4 linked regions of the Homo sapiens genome follow. The protein of the gene in region 3 purifies or fractionates together with the protein of the main gene of each other region. This does not show direct contact. Each region holds a gene or a part of one and is shown on either strand. Other genes may lie near its edges.

The links. The genes of interacting proteins can lie anywhere in the genome.
Region 1: the proteins of TUBD1 (region 3) and TMEM63B purify together in Homo sapiens (affinity purification with mass spectrometry; one large-scale study listed by BioGRID and IntAct). This does not show direct contact.
Region 2: the proteins of TUBD1 (region 3) and SMPDL3B purify together in Homo sapiens (affinity purification with mass spectrometry; one large-scale study listed by BioGRID and IntAct). This does not show direct contact.
Region 4: the proteins of TUBD1 (region 3) and ACTR3B purify together in Homo sapiens (affinity purification with mass spectrometry; one large-scale study listed by BioGRID and IntAct). This does not show direct contact.

Annotation. Positions count from the first base shown.
Region 1 is NC_000006.12:44,137,554-44,141,053, reverse strand, and holds part of TMEM63B (mechanosensitive cation channel TMEM63B), read right to left. Parts: intron 2,575-3,500; coding exon 2,537-2,574; intron 1,588-2,536; coding exon 1,445-1,587; intron 1,347-1,444; coding exon 1,295-1,346; intron 803-1,294; coding exon 694-802; intron 27-693; coding exon 1-26. UniProt on the Homo sapiens protein: Mechanosensitive cation channel with low conductance and high activation threshold. Osmosensitive cation channel preferentially activated by hypotonic stress.
Region 2 is NC_000001.11:27,933,848-27,937,799, reverse strand, and holds the start of SMPDL3B (acid sphingomyelinase-like phosphodiesterase 3b isoform 1 precursor), read right to left. Parts: upstream 2,801-3,952; 5' UTR 2,617-2,800; coding exon 2,556-2,616; intron 1-2,555. UniProt on the Homo sapiens protein: Lipid-modulating phosphodiesterase. Active on the surface of macrophages and dendritic cells and strongly influences macrophage lipid composition and membrane fluidity. Acts as a negative regulator of Toll-like receptor signaling.
Region 3 is NC_000017.11:59,886,444-59,889,943, reverse strand, and holds part of TUBD1 (tubulin delta chain), read left to right. Parts: intron 1-3,500. UniProt on the Homo sapiens protein: Acts as a positive regulator of hedgehog signaling and regulates ciliary function.
Region 4 is NC_000007.14:152,850,252-152,853,751, forward strand, and holds part of ACTR3B (actin-related protein 3B), read left to right. Parts: intron 1-1,874; coding exon 1,875-2,000; intron 2,001-3,242; coding exon 3,243-3,326; intron 3,327-3,500. UniProt on the Homo sapiens protein: Plays a role in the organization of the actin cytoskeleton.

The DNA of each region.
Region 1 (3,500 bases), on a different chromosome or scaffold from region 3:
CCATTGATGAAGAGGGTCCGCTTCACCTGGGTGACAGGGGAGTGGGTTTGCCTTCTGAGGCTTGACCCCAGTGGAGCCAGGGGATGTGAGGGGTGGGGGGCACTAGAGAAAGAGGCTTTGTTTTGAGTGGGTAGAGAAGTAGGTGAGCAGAGGGGAACAGATGGGGTGGGAGGAGGCCTTAGTTATGGATAAGCCAGGTCCCAGGGAAAGCAGGGGAGTGTTTCCAACAGAAATCAGGCAGTGAGCCTAACAAAAGAGCCACGCCGTCCCATGCTCTTGAGGGGTTATAGAGGCAGAAGGGGGTACTACTTTCAGCTCCTTAGACCCTGAGAACCCAGCACAGTGGCTGGCATGGAGTAGGTGTCCGGTTCTGGCTTGGTGAGTGCATGTAGAAGGGGAAGGAATATTACTATCCTAGGATCAGCCACTGCTATTTTCCCAAGTGCTGGGCACAGCACGGCTGTTTCTGTGTATTCCCCACAACCTTGGGGGAGGTACTGTTGTTATTCCATTTTACAGATGAGAAAATCATGGCTTGGGAGGTTATGTAACTTGCAGGATGGGAGCTCCTGAGCTGCTGTGCCAGCATTCAAACCTAGCTGACACCTCTTGGGGCTGAGACAAAAGAGGCCTGCAGGGAAGGGAAGGGAAGAGGCTGGGGATGGGGCAGGACCTGGGCTCTGCTCCACGCACCAGATCATCCTCCTTGTAGCGCATCTTGGAGGTGTGTCTACGCATGCTGTAGACGGTGAGCAGCAGATACAGGAAGGCGAAGGAGGTGTGCAGCCATAGCAGGTTGTTCCTGGGAGAAGCAGAGAGGATACATGGGAGCCACTGGGGCTAGGACACACTCAGAGGAGACACCTCAGCCTGTCAGTGTTAAACCCTTGATACAGACAGGGCCCTCTACTGCCACCAGCCTTCTGGCACTGACTCCTCGCAAGGCAGGCCCACATCCCACATCCCCTAGACACCAAAATTCTTCGATTCCAATGAAAATATCCCTGATAGGTCACCTTTCTACGCCCTACCCACTGGTTACAGTGTCTCCAACTGCCCCAGCTGGCCCTCCCTGGTTCCTGAGATTTCACCCTCCTCTTCTGTATCCTCTTCATCCTTGGGGGATCCTCAGCAGGCATTTCCCTCTTCTGTCTCCAACCCAAGCCCTCAGGGACCCATAGCCATCCCTGTAGGCTCTGCTCCCATCAACGCAGCTGCCTTTCCTCCCTGTCCCACATCATGGCCCAGACTCTGGTCGTAGACCTTGGCCTGGCCGACCAGCTTCGCATCTTACCCTGATTTCAAGTTGGCAATGGTGGTTCTCCCAAAGCTGTAGGCATTGTTCTCTGTGGGGTGGGAAGAGGGAGAGGATGATGGTGGGGTCAGGGCACATCCCCTCCAGCCCCATCCTCTCTCCACCCTAGCCGTCCTGGCCCTCACTGACCCAGCAGGTCCCCTGAGAAGTTGACAGGCAGCACGATGCCTACGGAGAGGACGCCCACAACCACCAGCAGCCCGATGATGTGCCGCTGAAAGGACAGGTAGTGCACGGCATCGCCCCCACATTTGTCCCGGATCTCATCATCCCTGCAGCCATACGGGTTGGACAAAGGAATTAGGTTAGGACCAGGGCAAGAAGGGGGCTGCAACTTGCCTGCCCTCACCCACTCCCACCCCAAACCCACCCTAGCTCCAGCTGATCTGGCAGTAGTATAGGGCTGAAATGGGACTTCTTGGTCCCCTATTTTCTGTGAAGGGAGAGGGGAGAAAGGGAGAAGAGAGGGGGAGGGAGAAAAAGGAGAAATGCATGGAGAAGGGGAGGGATGAAGGCAGAGGGCTAGAAGGAAAAGATAGGTAAAAGAAAGAAGAGACTGCAGAGACAGGAAGGGGAAGAAGAAAAATGAGGAATGCAGAGAAAAGGGAAGAAAAAAGAGAAATATCTGAGGAGGGAGGAAGGCAAGAGAGGAGGAGGACCAGCAGGAGGAGGAGTGGTGAAAGAGGCAGAAGTGAAGGAAGGATGGGAGGAGGGGCAGCAGCACCTCATGGGTGTGGCTGAGCCTGGCGTAGTGAAGCCCGGGTACCCTTGGGGGAGGCCTGGGGGAGTGGTGGCGGCAGTGCTGACCTGTCCTGGCTTCCTGCCTTTCTCAGCGCTCACTGCCTGCCTGCTGGACTCTGGCTGGATCTCCTGAGTTCTGCCTGCAGCTGGCTGGCTGCTCCCAGCCTACTGCTGCCCCCACTCACTGGCTGCACAGAGGTTGAGGCAGGGGCTCCACCCCCTCCCTCAAGGTGGGGCAGGGCAGGGAGAGAAGCGGGGGGGCCGGCAGGGGGTCACAGAGGAGATTATGGGGTCAAGTGAGTGTTCAGGGTACAGCAGAGGCTCAGGCACCCGAGGCTTGGCCTTTGAGAGCAGGGAGGAGGGTGCTGTGCTGGCGAGGAGTGCTAAGGCCCTGAAAGCTGCTGGCTTCTGAATTTTGTAGGGAGATGCCAGGTTCTGAAGTTTCTCTCTTTCTTTAGAGCTTGAAGATGGTCCACTTACTTTATCCTGAAGATGGCTGTCAGCCAGGAACAGAAACCCTGGGGGAACAGAGGGCTGTCAGCGGGAGTCCCCAGCCCACCAACCCGAACCTCTCTCCTCCCTCAAGTCCCACCCATTCTCATAATTACCTCCAGGCATAGCTTCCACACCCCTCACTAAAAAAAAATCCTTATACCCTCAGAACTAGCTTATACCCAAAAAGGGAGAGAGAGAGGGAAGGTCTCAGCCCTCAAAGAAAAAAGACCAACACTAAACAGGTTTATCTGTGAATCCCCATGTCCAGATCTACAGATTTCTGCAAATACCCTGTGGCTGTGTGGGCCAGGGTGGGATGGGTGGGGCTTGGGGTTCTAAGGTTAGCAGGACCTCCAGACCTCCGGCTAATAAGTTTGCAACATGGCTGCCAAAAGCAGAGAAGAGGGCCTTGCTGCCTGAATTCCAGCTATTTATCCTCTAGTCTACCCCAGAAGGACAAAAGCCCAGGGTCACTATGAGCTGCAAGGTATCTCCCCACCTCCGGCCAGGTGCGGTGGCTCACGCCTGTAATCCCAGCACTTTTGGAGGCCAAGGCGGGCGGATCAACTGAGGTCAGGAGTTCGAGATCAGCCTGGCCAACATGGTGACACCCCGTCTCTTACTAAAAATACAAAAATTAGCTGGGTGTGGTGGTGCGCGCCTGTAATCCCAGTTACTTGGGAGGCTGAGACTGGAAAATTGCTTGAACCCAGGAGGCGGAGGTTGCAGTGAGCTGAGATCACACCACTGCACCCTAGCCTGGGCGACAGAGCAAGACTCTGTCTCAGGGAAAAATTAAAAAAAAAAAAAAATCTCTCCCCTCCACCCTCCAGGCATGTAAAGGCAGAGAATGGGGATATTCAGGGGAGGGCTGCGCAGAGGGCACCCTGCCCCAAACTCCATCCAGCAGAAGGTCCAGACATAACACAGGATGGGGTAGAAAGGTGCC
Region 2 (3,952 bases), on a different chromosome or scaffold from region 3:
CCTGCCTCAGTTGTGCAGGTAAAAGAGTTCTCTTATACAGAGCACCTGGCTGTGGGGTGAGCAAGGCAGCCTTAGGACTCATTCCCTGGGCCACACTGCCCCTCAGCCTCCGTTTCCTCAAGTATAAGATGAAAGTACTGAACAGAGGTTCCCTGAAGGCCCTCCTAGTCTGACTCCTGTGATTCAGTGGCTTTTGTCTGTTATTGCCTATAACCCACACCACACAATGGTCTCAGTCTCTATTTCAGTCCTTTGCTATTAAGGCTAGCATTAGCCCCAAAACACAATTGTAATTCATCCTTTGTAAATGGAGGCCCTCCAAAACCCATGGAGTTCATTTGTTAAAACCTACATTTACGGACCACCTACAGTGAATACCCTCTGTTCACAATAGCTCCAGAGGTAGGTGTTACCATTCCTGCCCTGGTCCTGCTCCCTCAGCCCTGGGCTGGCCTTCCAGGGAGTGTTTTCCTACCAAGCTAACCCACAGGGGAAGAACCTGTCTGCTTCTCTGCAGTTAGAAGCTGAGGAAGGAGCGAAATGTTACACAGGACATGTGTAGGAGGAGAAGGAGCCAGCAAGTTGGCATCCACCCAAGCTCCTGGCTAAGGAAAGTGGAGGCAGAAATCCCACAGTTTAATGCAAAGCAGGGATGATGCTGTCTGATCCCCTGTCTCAGAATCCACCTGTGCTTCAGGAAGACACCTGGAGTTGGAAAAACCTTACAGGTGCTGCGGAATTCCTTTTTTTGTTGTTGTTTGTTTGTTTGTTTGTTTTTTGAGACGGAGCCTCACTCTGTCGCCCAGGCTGGAGTGCAGTGGTGCAATCTCGGCTCACTGCAAGCTCCACCTCCCGGGTTTACCCCATTCTCCTGCTTCAGCCTCCCAAGTAGCTGGGACGACAGGTGCTCATCACCACGCCTGGCTAATTTTTTGTACTTTTAGTAGAGTATTTTTAGTTTCACCGTATTAGCCAGGATTGTCTCAATCTCCTGACCTCGTGATCCGCCCGCCTCGGCCTCCCAAAGTGCTGGGATTACAGGCGTGAGCCACCGCATCCGGCCCGGAATTCCTTTTAAATTTACTTTAAAAGGAATACATTCCAGCAAGTTTGGAGAAAAGAGAAAAAAATAGTACCTCTAAACCCCACCATCCCAAGAGGACATGAAGCATAGTACAGCCAGGCACAGGCTTTGTCCTGCCATTTCCCAGCTGGGAGATCTTCAGCAAGTGCAATGTCCCCTCTGAGACTCATTTGCCTCATCTGCAAAATGGGTATAATGATATTAGCACCTACTTCAGAGGGGCTATAAAGAGAATTTTTTTCTTTCATTTTCTTTTTTTTTTTTGAGATGGTCTCATTCCCGTCACCCAGGCTGGGGTGCAGTGGCACAATCACAGCTCACTGCAGCCTCAACCTCCCAGGCTCAGGTAATTCTCCCAGCTGAGTCTCCCAAGTAGCTGGCACTACAGGCACCCACTACCACACCCAGCTAATTTTTGGTATTTTTAGTAGAGTCAGGGTTTTGCTATGTTGCCCAGGCTGGTCTCAAACTCCTGGACTCAAGCAATCCACCCTCCTCAGCCTCCCAAAGTGCTGGGATTACAGATGTTAGCCACTGCGTCTGGCCTCAAGGGTCCTTTTAAACATACAGAAGTCAGAATAGATTACACCTGTGCCTAGAACCCTCCAATGACATCCCATTTCACCCTGAGCAAAAGCCTGCGTCCTTCCTATCTACAGGCACGTGGAAAGAAAAATGTCTGAGTCCTCAAGAGAGTCTTCGAGGCTATCCATGATTTGGCACCTGCCCCACCCCACCATCTGCCAACCTCACCCCCACTTGTCCTGCCCACCCTGCTTCAGCCACGCGGGCTTCCTTGCTGTTCCTCATGCACATCTCCTGTGTGTCCACCTCAGACCCCGTGCACTGTCCTCTCTTCCTGTAATGTTCTGGACACCCATGTGGCTCCCCCACTCACTGCCTCAAGGCTCCACTTGAGTGTCACCTGATTTGACAGCTCTTCTCTGGACGTCTTGTAAGTACCCCCTCCCCACAACCCGCCTTCCCTGTTCTACTTTATTTTCCCCATAACACTTATCATCTCCTCCAATGCTGCGTACTTTACTTGTTCGTGTGGTTTGTTTTTTTCTCCCCAGATGAAGGAATTCTTCATTGAGACGGGGACTTTCTTTTCTTCTCTGATATATCCCTGGCTCCTAGAATAACGTATGGTACAGGAAAGGACCTCATTTGTTGAATGAGTCCACGAATCTTTCCTGCCACCTCCTACCTCTACTAATTAGCTAGCTCTCACGTACCCAGACCTCTTCGCAATGTCGGTGTCCCTCCCTGGCCAGCTGGCGCCTCCACTTAAAATCTTCAGCCTCAAACAGCACTTGCTAAGGCCCACTAGCTCTCCCCACCTGCCTCCCTGCCTAGCTCCTGCCTTGCTATCTTTAGAAGCACCTTCAAGCTGGCTGCGAGCAGCTTCCCGCAGCCCCAGAGTTCACAGTACAAAACAAAGGCATAGCAGACATTCCCAGTGCTGTACCTGGTTCAGCCCTGGCACCTCCCCAGTTAGCCAGGAAAATCAGCCAGGCGAGCAGCCTCATCCTCGGGGCTCACTTCCCCAGAGCCGTGGGATTCTCAGGCACTGTTGTTGTTCTCACCACAGGCTTCCTAAGTAGTTTTCTGTGGCCACGTGCCTGAGCAGAACTCCTTGTCCTGTTACAGGTGTTCCAAGTCCTCCAAGGCGTCTGGATCCTCTGGCTCTTCCTCCTTTGCCCAGCAGGGTATGATCTGGGCTGGCCCGAGGAGGCAGGCATACCGGACCCTTAAGTGGAAGCCACACCTCTCCTGCCAGTGCAGCCCCTGCCCCCAAGAGGGAGGGGCAAACAACAGAATTGCCGGTCAGCACATCAGGTGTATTGGCAAGCCCCGGAAAGGGGGATCTAATTCAGACTGAGGAATGTGAGAGGGCTTCTAGGAGGGGGTGACACGTTTAATCCTTTCTTAACATTGTATTATGGAAACAGTCAAACAGAAACAGGAGAGAGAATGGTGTAATGAACCCCCAAGTACCTTCCTCCAGCTTCAGTAATTATGAACTTATGGCCACTCTTATTTCATCTATACTCACTTTTGATTATTTTATGTATTTAAACAACTTTTTTTTTTTTTTGAGACGGAGTCTCATTCTGTCACCCAGGCTGTAGTGCAGTGGCACCATCTCAGCTCACTGCAAGCTCTGCCTCCCGGATTCACACCATTCTCCTGCCTCAGCCTCCCGAGTAGCTGGGACTACAGGCGCCCGCCACCACGCCCGGCTATTTTTTTGTATTTTTAGTAGAGACGGGGTTTCACTGTGTTAGCCAGGATGGTCTCGATCTCCTGACCTTGTGATCCACCCGTCTCGGCCTCCCAAAGTGCTGGGATTACAGGCATGAGCCACCGCGCCCGGCCCTATTTAAACAACTTTTAAAATTTTTTATTATTTTAACTTTTATTTATTTATGTATTTTTTTAGAGAAGTGTCTCAGGCTGGGTGCAGTGGCTCATGTCTGTAATCCCAGCACTTTGGTAGGCTAAGGCAGGAGGATCGCTTGAGCCCAGGAGTTTGAGGCCATCCTGAGCAACATAGTGAAACACCATCTCTACAAAAAATAAAAAAATTAGCTGGGCATGGTAATACATGTCTATAGTCCAGCTACTTGGGAGGCTGAGGCAGGAGGATCCCTTGAGCCTGGGAGGTAGAAGTTGCAGTAAGCCAAGATTGCATCATTGCATTCCAGCCTGGGTGATAGAGCAAGACTCTGTCTCAAAAAAAAAAAAAAAAAAAAAAAAGAAGGGGGTTGTCTCACTCTGCCACCCAGGCTAGAGTGCAGTGGCAAGATAATAATAGCTCACTGCAGCCTCGAGCTCCTGGACTCAAGCTATCTTCCTATCTTC
Region 3 (3,500 bases):
GGCTGAAGTGCAGTGATGTGATCTTGGCTCACTGTAACCTCCACCTCCCGTGTTCAAGCAATTCTCCTGCCTCAGCCTCCCAAGTAGCTGGAATTACAGGTGCCCACGACCATGTCTGGCTAATTTTTGTATTTTTAGTAGAGACAGGGTTTTGCCATGTTGGCCAGGCTGGTCTCGAATGCCTGATCTCAAGTGATCCGCCTGCCTTGGCCTCCCAAAGTGATGGGATTACAGGCTCTCTTTCTTTTTCTTTTTCTTTTTTTTTTTTTTTTTTTGAGACAGAGTCTAGCTCTGTCACCCAGACTGGAGTGCAGTGGTGCGATCTTGGCTCACTGCAACCTCCGACTACCAGGTTGAAGCAATTCTCCTGCCTCAGCCTCATGAGTAGCTGGGACTACAGGCATGCGCCACCACGCCCAACTAATTTTTTTGTATTTTTAGTAGAGATGGGGTTTTACCATGTTGGTCAGGCTGGTCTCGAACTCCTGACCTCAAATGATCTGCCCACCTCAGCTTCCCAAAGTGCTGGGATTACAGGCGTGAGCCACTGTGCCCAGCCTCTCTTTCTTTTCTTAATTCACTTTACTCCTCTACTGCGTTTGATAACAGTAACGTATAAAAACTCTTTCCAGCAGGGCGCAGTGGCTCACGCCTATAATCCCAGCACTTTGGGAGGCCAAGGCAGGCAGATCACTTGAGGTCAGGAGTTAGAGACCAGCCTGGCCAACAGGGTAAAACCCCGTCTCGACTAAAAATACAAAAATTAGCCGGACATGGTGGCACATACCTGTAATCCCAGTTATTCGGGAGGGTGAGGCAGGAGAATCACTTGAACCCGGGAGGGGGGTTGCAGTGAGCCGAGATCTCGCCACTGCACTCCAGCCTGGGAAATAGAGCGAGATGCCGTCTCAAAAAAAAAAAAAAAAAAAAAAAGCCAGGCATGGTGGCTCATCCCTGTAATCCCAACACTTTGGGAGGCCGAGGTGGGTGAATCACCTGAGGTCAGGAGTTCGAGACCAGCCTGGCCAACGTGGTGAAACCCCATCTGTACTAAAAATACAAAAATTAGCCGAGCGTAGTGGTGCGTGCCTGTAATCCCAGCTACTTGGGAGGCTGAGGCAGGAGAATCGCTTGAACCCGGGAGTCGGAGAGTGTGCCATTGTACTCCAGCCTAGGTGACAAGAGCGAAACTCCGTCTCAAAAAAGAAAAAAAAAAGACAAAAAACAACTCTCTCCTTGAACCTCCTTCTCCTAGTCACCCCACTTTTCTTCTCCAGTTGTTGCATCTCCCCTGTCCTCACTTGCATAGTTCTCTCTGGGCAACTTCACTGTCATAGTTTGCTACATTTATTACACCTGTGACTTTCAGACCTCTAGCCCAGCCTCTCTTAAAAGCTCTAGACAGATTAGTGGATATCTCCACCCACATCTCTCATATGAACCTGAAACTCAACATCTCTATTCCCAAGGCATTCATTATTGTTCCTTGTGCTCTTGCTGCATACATACCATCAAACAAGATCTGCTTATTTGACCTCCTATATACTCCTTGAAACTGTTCTTCCCTTTCCACCTTCACTGACTTGCTTTAGTCTGGCTTTTGTTCTTTCTTACCTGGACTGTCTCAAGACACTCCTTTTAGGATTCCTTGCCTGGAGTCTACTGTCTATCACATCCATCCTCCGTACTGCTGTGTTTAAAAAGACATCGGCCGGGTGCAGTGGCTCATGCCTATAATCCCAGCACTTTGGGAGGTCGAGGCGGGCGAATCATGAGGTCAGGAGATCGAGACCATCCTGGCTAACACAGTAAAATCCCGTCTCTACTAAAAATACAAAAAAATTAGCCAGGCGTGGTGGCGGGTGCCTGTAGTCCCAGCTACTTGGGATGCTGAGGCAGGAGAATGGCGTGAACCCAGGAGGCGGAGCTTGCAGTGAGCTGAGATCGCACCACTGCACTCCAGCCTGCGGGACAGAGCGAGACTCCATCTCAAAAAAAAAAAAAAGACATCTAACAGCTGGGCACAGTGTCTCACTGTAATTCCAGTGTTTTGGGAGACCAAGGTGGGAGGATTGCTTGAGGCCAGGAATTCAAGACCAGCCTGGGCAATAGAGCAAGATTCTGTCTCTAGAAAAAAAAACAATAAAAATTAGTTAGGTGTAATGGCACACACCTGAAGTCCCAGCTACTTAGAAGGCCAAAGTGGGAGGATTGCTTGAGCTCAAGAGTTTGAGGCTGCAGTGAATTATGATTGACAGACATTTAACTATTCCTCGCCTGCTTGAAAATTTTTGGTGGTTAATCATGGCCTAAAAGATAAAGTTCAGGCTTTTCTAGCATTGCCTATAAAGATTTCCAAGATTGAGCCCTACCTGCTTTTCATCCCCATCCATCACTTCTACCCTCTCCTTCTCCATCCTCTGCTCCAACAATTCTGAGCTGGATGTTGTACCCATGGTACTTTGTACCTCTAAATATGATGTTCCTTTGGTGTGGATTTATTTGGTCATATCACGTTGCAGTGTGATTAAGTATTGATGTATTTATCTTTCCCACAAGTCTTTTTTTTTTTTTGAGACAGAGTCTCACTCTTGCCCAAGCTGGAGCACAGTGGTGTGATTGCAGCTCATTGCAACCTCTGCCTCCTGGGTTCAAGCAATTCTCGTGCCTCAGCCTCCTGAGTAGCTGAGATTACAGGCACACGCCACCAAGTCTTGCTAATTTTGTATTTTTGTTTTTTGTTTGTTTGTTTGTTTTGAGACAGTGTTTTGCTTTTATTGCTCAGGCTGGAGTGCAATGGCTCAATCTTGGCTCACTGCAACCTCCACCTCCCGGGATCAAGCAATTCTCCTGCCTCAGCCTCCGGAGTAGCTGGGATTACAGGAGCCTGCCACCACGCCCAGCTAATTTTTTGTATTTTTAGTAGAGATGGGTTTTCACCATGTTGGCCAGTTTGGTCTTGAACTCCTGACCTCAGATGATCCGCCCGCCTCGGCCTCCCAAAGTGCTGGGATTACAGGTGTGAGCCACCGCACCTGGCCAATTTTGTATTTTTAGTAGGATCGGGATTTCACCATGTTGGCCAGGCTGGTCTCCAACTCCTGGCCTCAAGTGATCCACCTGCCTCAGCCTCCCAAAATGCTGGGATTACAGGCATGAGCCACCACGCCCAGCCTCCCACCTGCCCTTTCTAAGGCTAGTTTGATGTCTTCATCTCCAAATTCCCAGCACAGTCCATGGCACATCATAAGCATTCAGCATATGTTTGTAGACCTGACCCAGGTACTCTTTTTTTTTTTTTTTTTTTTTTTTTTGAGACAGAATCTCACTCTGTCTCCCAGGCTGGAGTGCAGTGGTGCAACCTTGGCTCAGTGCAACCTCCGCCTTCCAGGTTCAAGCAGTTCTCCTGCCTCAGCCTCCCGAGTAGCTGGAATTACAGGCACATGCCACCACGCCGGCTAATCTGACCCAGGTACTCTTTTAGGCCCACACTGATTCAG
Region 4 (3,500 bases), on a different chromosome or scaffold from region 3:
CACTGGTGGCTTCTCCAGGTAGAAGTTCAGATCACTGGTGGCTTCTCCAGGTAGAAGGCCAGATCACTGGTCACTTCTCCAGGTGGAAGGCCAGCTTCTCCAGGTGGAAGGCCAGATCACTGGTGGCTTCTCCAGGTAGAAGTTCAGATCACTGGTGGCTTCTCCAGGTAGGAGGCCAGATCACTGGTGGCTTCTCCAGGTAGAAGGCCAGATCACTGGTCACTTCTCCAGGTAGAAGGCCAGATCACTGTGGCTTCCCCAAATGGAAGGCCGGATCACTGGTGGCTTCCTGTGGCTTCTGCCCCGTTTCATTCTTCCTGCTCTGACTTCACCATCTCTAATCCTGAGTCCACGTGGGTGCTGTCACAGCAGTTCTAGGAGCTGGCATGAGAGAAAAATGATCCCTTTGTAGTCAGTCCTGGCTGTCTTTCCCCAGAACAGCAGTAAGCAGGAACAGACTACTCTCATATCATATAACTTAGAACCTGGGTTGCTAGGGACAGAAAAGTGCATTTTTTTTTCCGTGCTGATTCCCTGTGACTTCTGCTTACCTGTAAACTTGTTGAGGGACTCACTGTTCACACACTCAGAGCTGACTGGGAGGAGTGCCTGAAAGCAGAGAGCTCTGTAGTTGCTCAGGAACTCGGGAAGAGCTAACATATTTAGAGGGTCTTAAAGGAAATAGGGCTTTTTGACTCCTTGAAGGATTAATTTCCTTATGTAGTTTTCACATAAGGTGTTTTCTCTAAGAAAGTTCAATCAGGAGATACACTAGTCCCCCTTGTCAGTGAGGATATGATTCAAGACCTCCAGTGGGTGCCTGAAACTGCAAATAGTACCGAATCCTATATATACTGTGTTTTTTCTTGTACATACATACCTATGATAAAGTTTAATTTAGAAATTAGGCACAGTAAGAGACTTCTGAACAGCAGTAACTACTAAAGTAGAATAATTATTGTAACAATATACTGTAGGAAAAGTTATATAAATGTGGTCTCTCTCTGTCTGTCTAAAAATACCTTTCTGTACCATACTCACCCTTCCTCATCTTGTGAGGGTGTGAGATGATGCAGTGCCCCATGGTGAGAGGGCGAGAGGTGAGTGACGTAGGTGAGGCCACTGTGGCCTCTGACATACATCAGAAGAGGACCAGCTGCTCGGGTGACCTGGGCCGTCAAACCATGAGGATGTCAGTGGCTGCAGGTCAGGAGCTGACGGTATGGATGACTGACAGGTGGGCAGGGTTGACAACGCGGAGATGCTGGACAGAGGGCTGGTTCGGGTTCTGGGCAGGCGGAGCGGGACAGGCGAGTGCTTCCCCTTCCTCAGCCCCCCACCGAGCTTCTGGGGTGGCCACCGAGCGAGTCTTGGCCCTGGAGGGCAGTGCTGGCTGGGTGGCTCATCTGAGAATGTTCCTTCCGGTAACTTGGATGCTTTCTTCCCAAGATTGTCCTTCTGAGAAGCTTCAAGCACCCATTAGAAGACTTTCCCCCAGTGATGGTTAAGGCGGACCAGGGGAGAGCTGGTGTTATTTTGGCTCAAGTCAGCTGGACAGTTTCTGTTGTTTGTTTTGGCTTCCTGGTCTATGTGAGGGGTTGGCAGGGGGAGCATGAGGGAGCAGGATCGCCTTGTTTTTGCTTTGCTGTAATTGAGGAAAGGATTAAGGAGCCATCTGTGGCACATTGTTGTCTCCATAAAAAAAAAATCTACACTTTTCCAATAGCATTAAGTTTGCTTTTGTTCGCATCTTTCATAGGGCCGATGTGTCGTGCCCACAAGCGATTGGACCTGTGGGAGTTCTGTTGTGGGTGGTTCCCGGAACTGTGGGCGGGCGGTTTTACCCAGGGCTCCCTCTGCTTTGTGTCTTGTAGAATGTCGTACTCTCAGGAGGCTCCACCATGTTCAGGGATTTCGGACGCCGACTGCAGAGGGATTTGAAGAGAGTGGTGGATGCTAGGCTGAGGCTCAGCGAGGAGCTCAGCGGCGGGAGGATCAAGGTAGGAGCCAGAGGCCTCCACGCAGTGCCTGGGGCTATTGCCCCAGGCCTGACCGGGGCCCTCCTGACACAGAGCCGAAGGAGCTTGTCTGGGCCGCGTAAAATAAAAACAAGTGTTCATCGCTTTCTGAGCTGCATTGTGACATGACCATGGAGGTTTGCTGCCTGAGGTCCTTCCAGGCTGGTAGTTCAGACTGATGGTCCTGGTGACACAGCAACGGCAGCTTCACACTCTCCCTGGCCATGCCTGCCAGCAGTTTCCTTTTGTGTCGTAAGAGATCAGGCATGGGGTATAATGACCAGTGTCCCAAGGAGATGGGACTAATTTATGGTGAGGATCTTTCATGTCCTTCGGAAATGTTCTCATTAAATGAAAATAACTAATGTTAGCAGGGAGTTACAAGGCGTTCCTCCAAGATAGTAATTCTTAAGTAGCTGGTGATCACTGTGGGCTTCTAACCAAGAGTGGGCTTCGATAGGGGCAGTGGGCGCAAGGAAGAGATCCCACGAGTCCACTGTTGGAAGAGCACAGTTTCTTTTCTTTTTTTTCTTTTTTCTTGAGACAGAGTCTCTCTCTGTCGCCCAGGCTGGAGTGCAGTGGTGAGATCTCGGCTCATAGCAAGCTCTGCCTCCTGGGTTCACACCATTCTCCTGCCTCAGCCTATTGAGTAGCTGGGACTACAGGTGCCCGCCACCAAGCCCGGCTAATTTTTTGTATTTTTAGTAGAGATGGGGTTTCACCGTGTTAGCCAGGATGGTCTCGATCTCCTGACCTTGTGATCCATGCGCCTCGGCCTCCCAAAGTGCTGGGATTACAGGTGCGAGCTACCACGCCCGGCCAGAAAAGCACAGTTTCTTTTATTATTTTGAGGATGGTTAATCTTATTTGGGATGATCTCTACAGTGCCAGAACATCTGATATGTTAGGTTAAAAAAAAAAAAGCAGTGGGGTTAATTGCTTGGATTTTGTGCTTTTGAACTTTAGCGCTTTGAGCCTTGTGAGAGGGAGGTGCTGCTTGCCGGGTGCACTGTGTTCCTTTGAGCGCTGGGGGCTGGGATTCTGGTAGGTCTTAGGGGGATTTGGCAGCAGGGGCGGAGAGTCACTGAGTGCTGGGTGTGAGGTGGTGCTCGTGCCATAAGAGGAGGGCGGCCCTGGGTGCAGCTGTGGTCTCGTCAGCCGGGGGATGATTAGATCACATGTGTCTGTGGGTGTGGGGTAAGTGAGAGCTGCTTTCTCTTCCAGCCGAAGCCTGTGGAGGTCCAGGTGGTCACGCATCACATGCAGCGCTACGCCGTGTGGTTCGGAGGCTCCATGCTGGCCTCGACTGTAAGTCCCTCTCTCGAGGGCTCTGTGTCTCCATTCCTGTGCTCTCGGTTGAGTTTGGGTAAATACTGTCTACGAAGGTGAAATAGTGTGTGCCCTAATCGTGTGGCTCTAAACAGACCATTCTGTAAGATATAAATTATATCTTTTTTGTTTTTTCGAGATGGAGTCTCACTC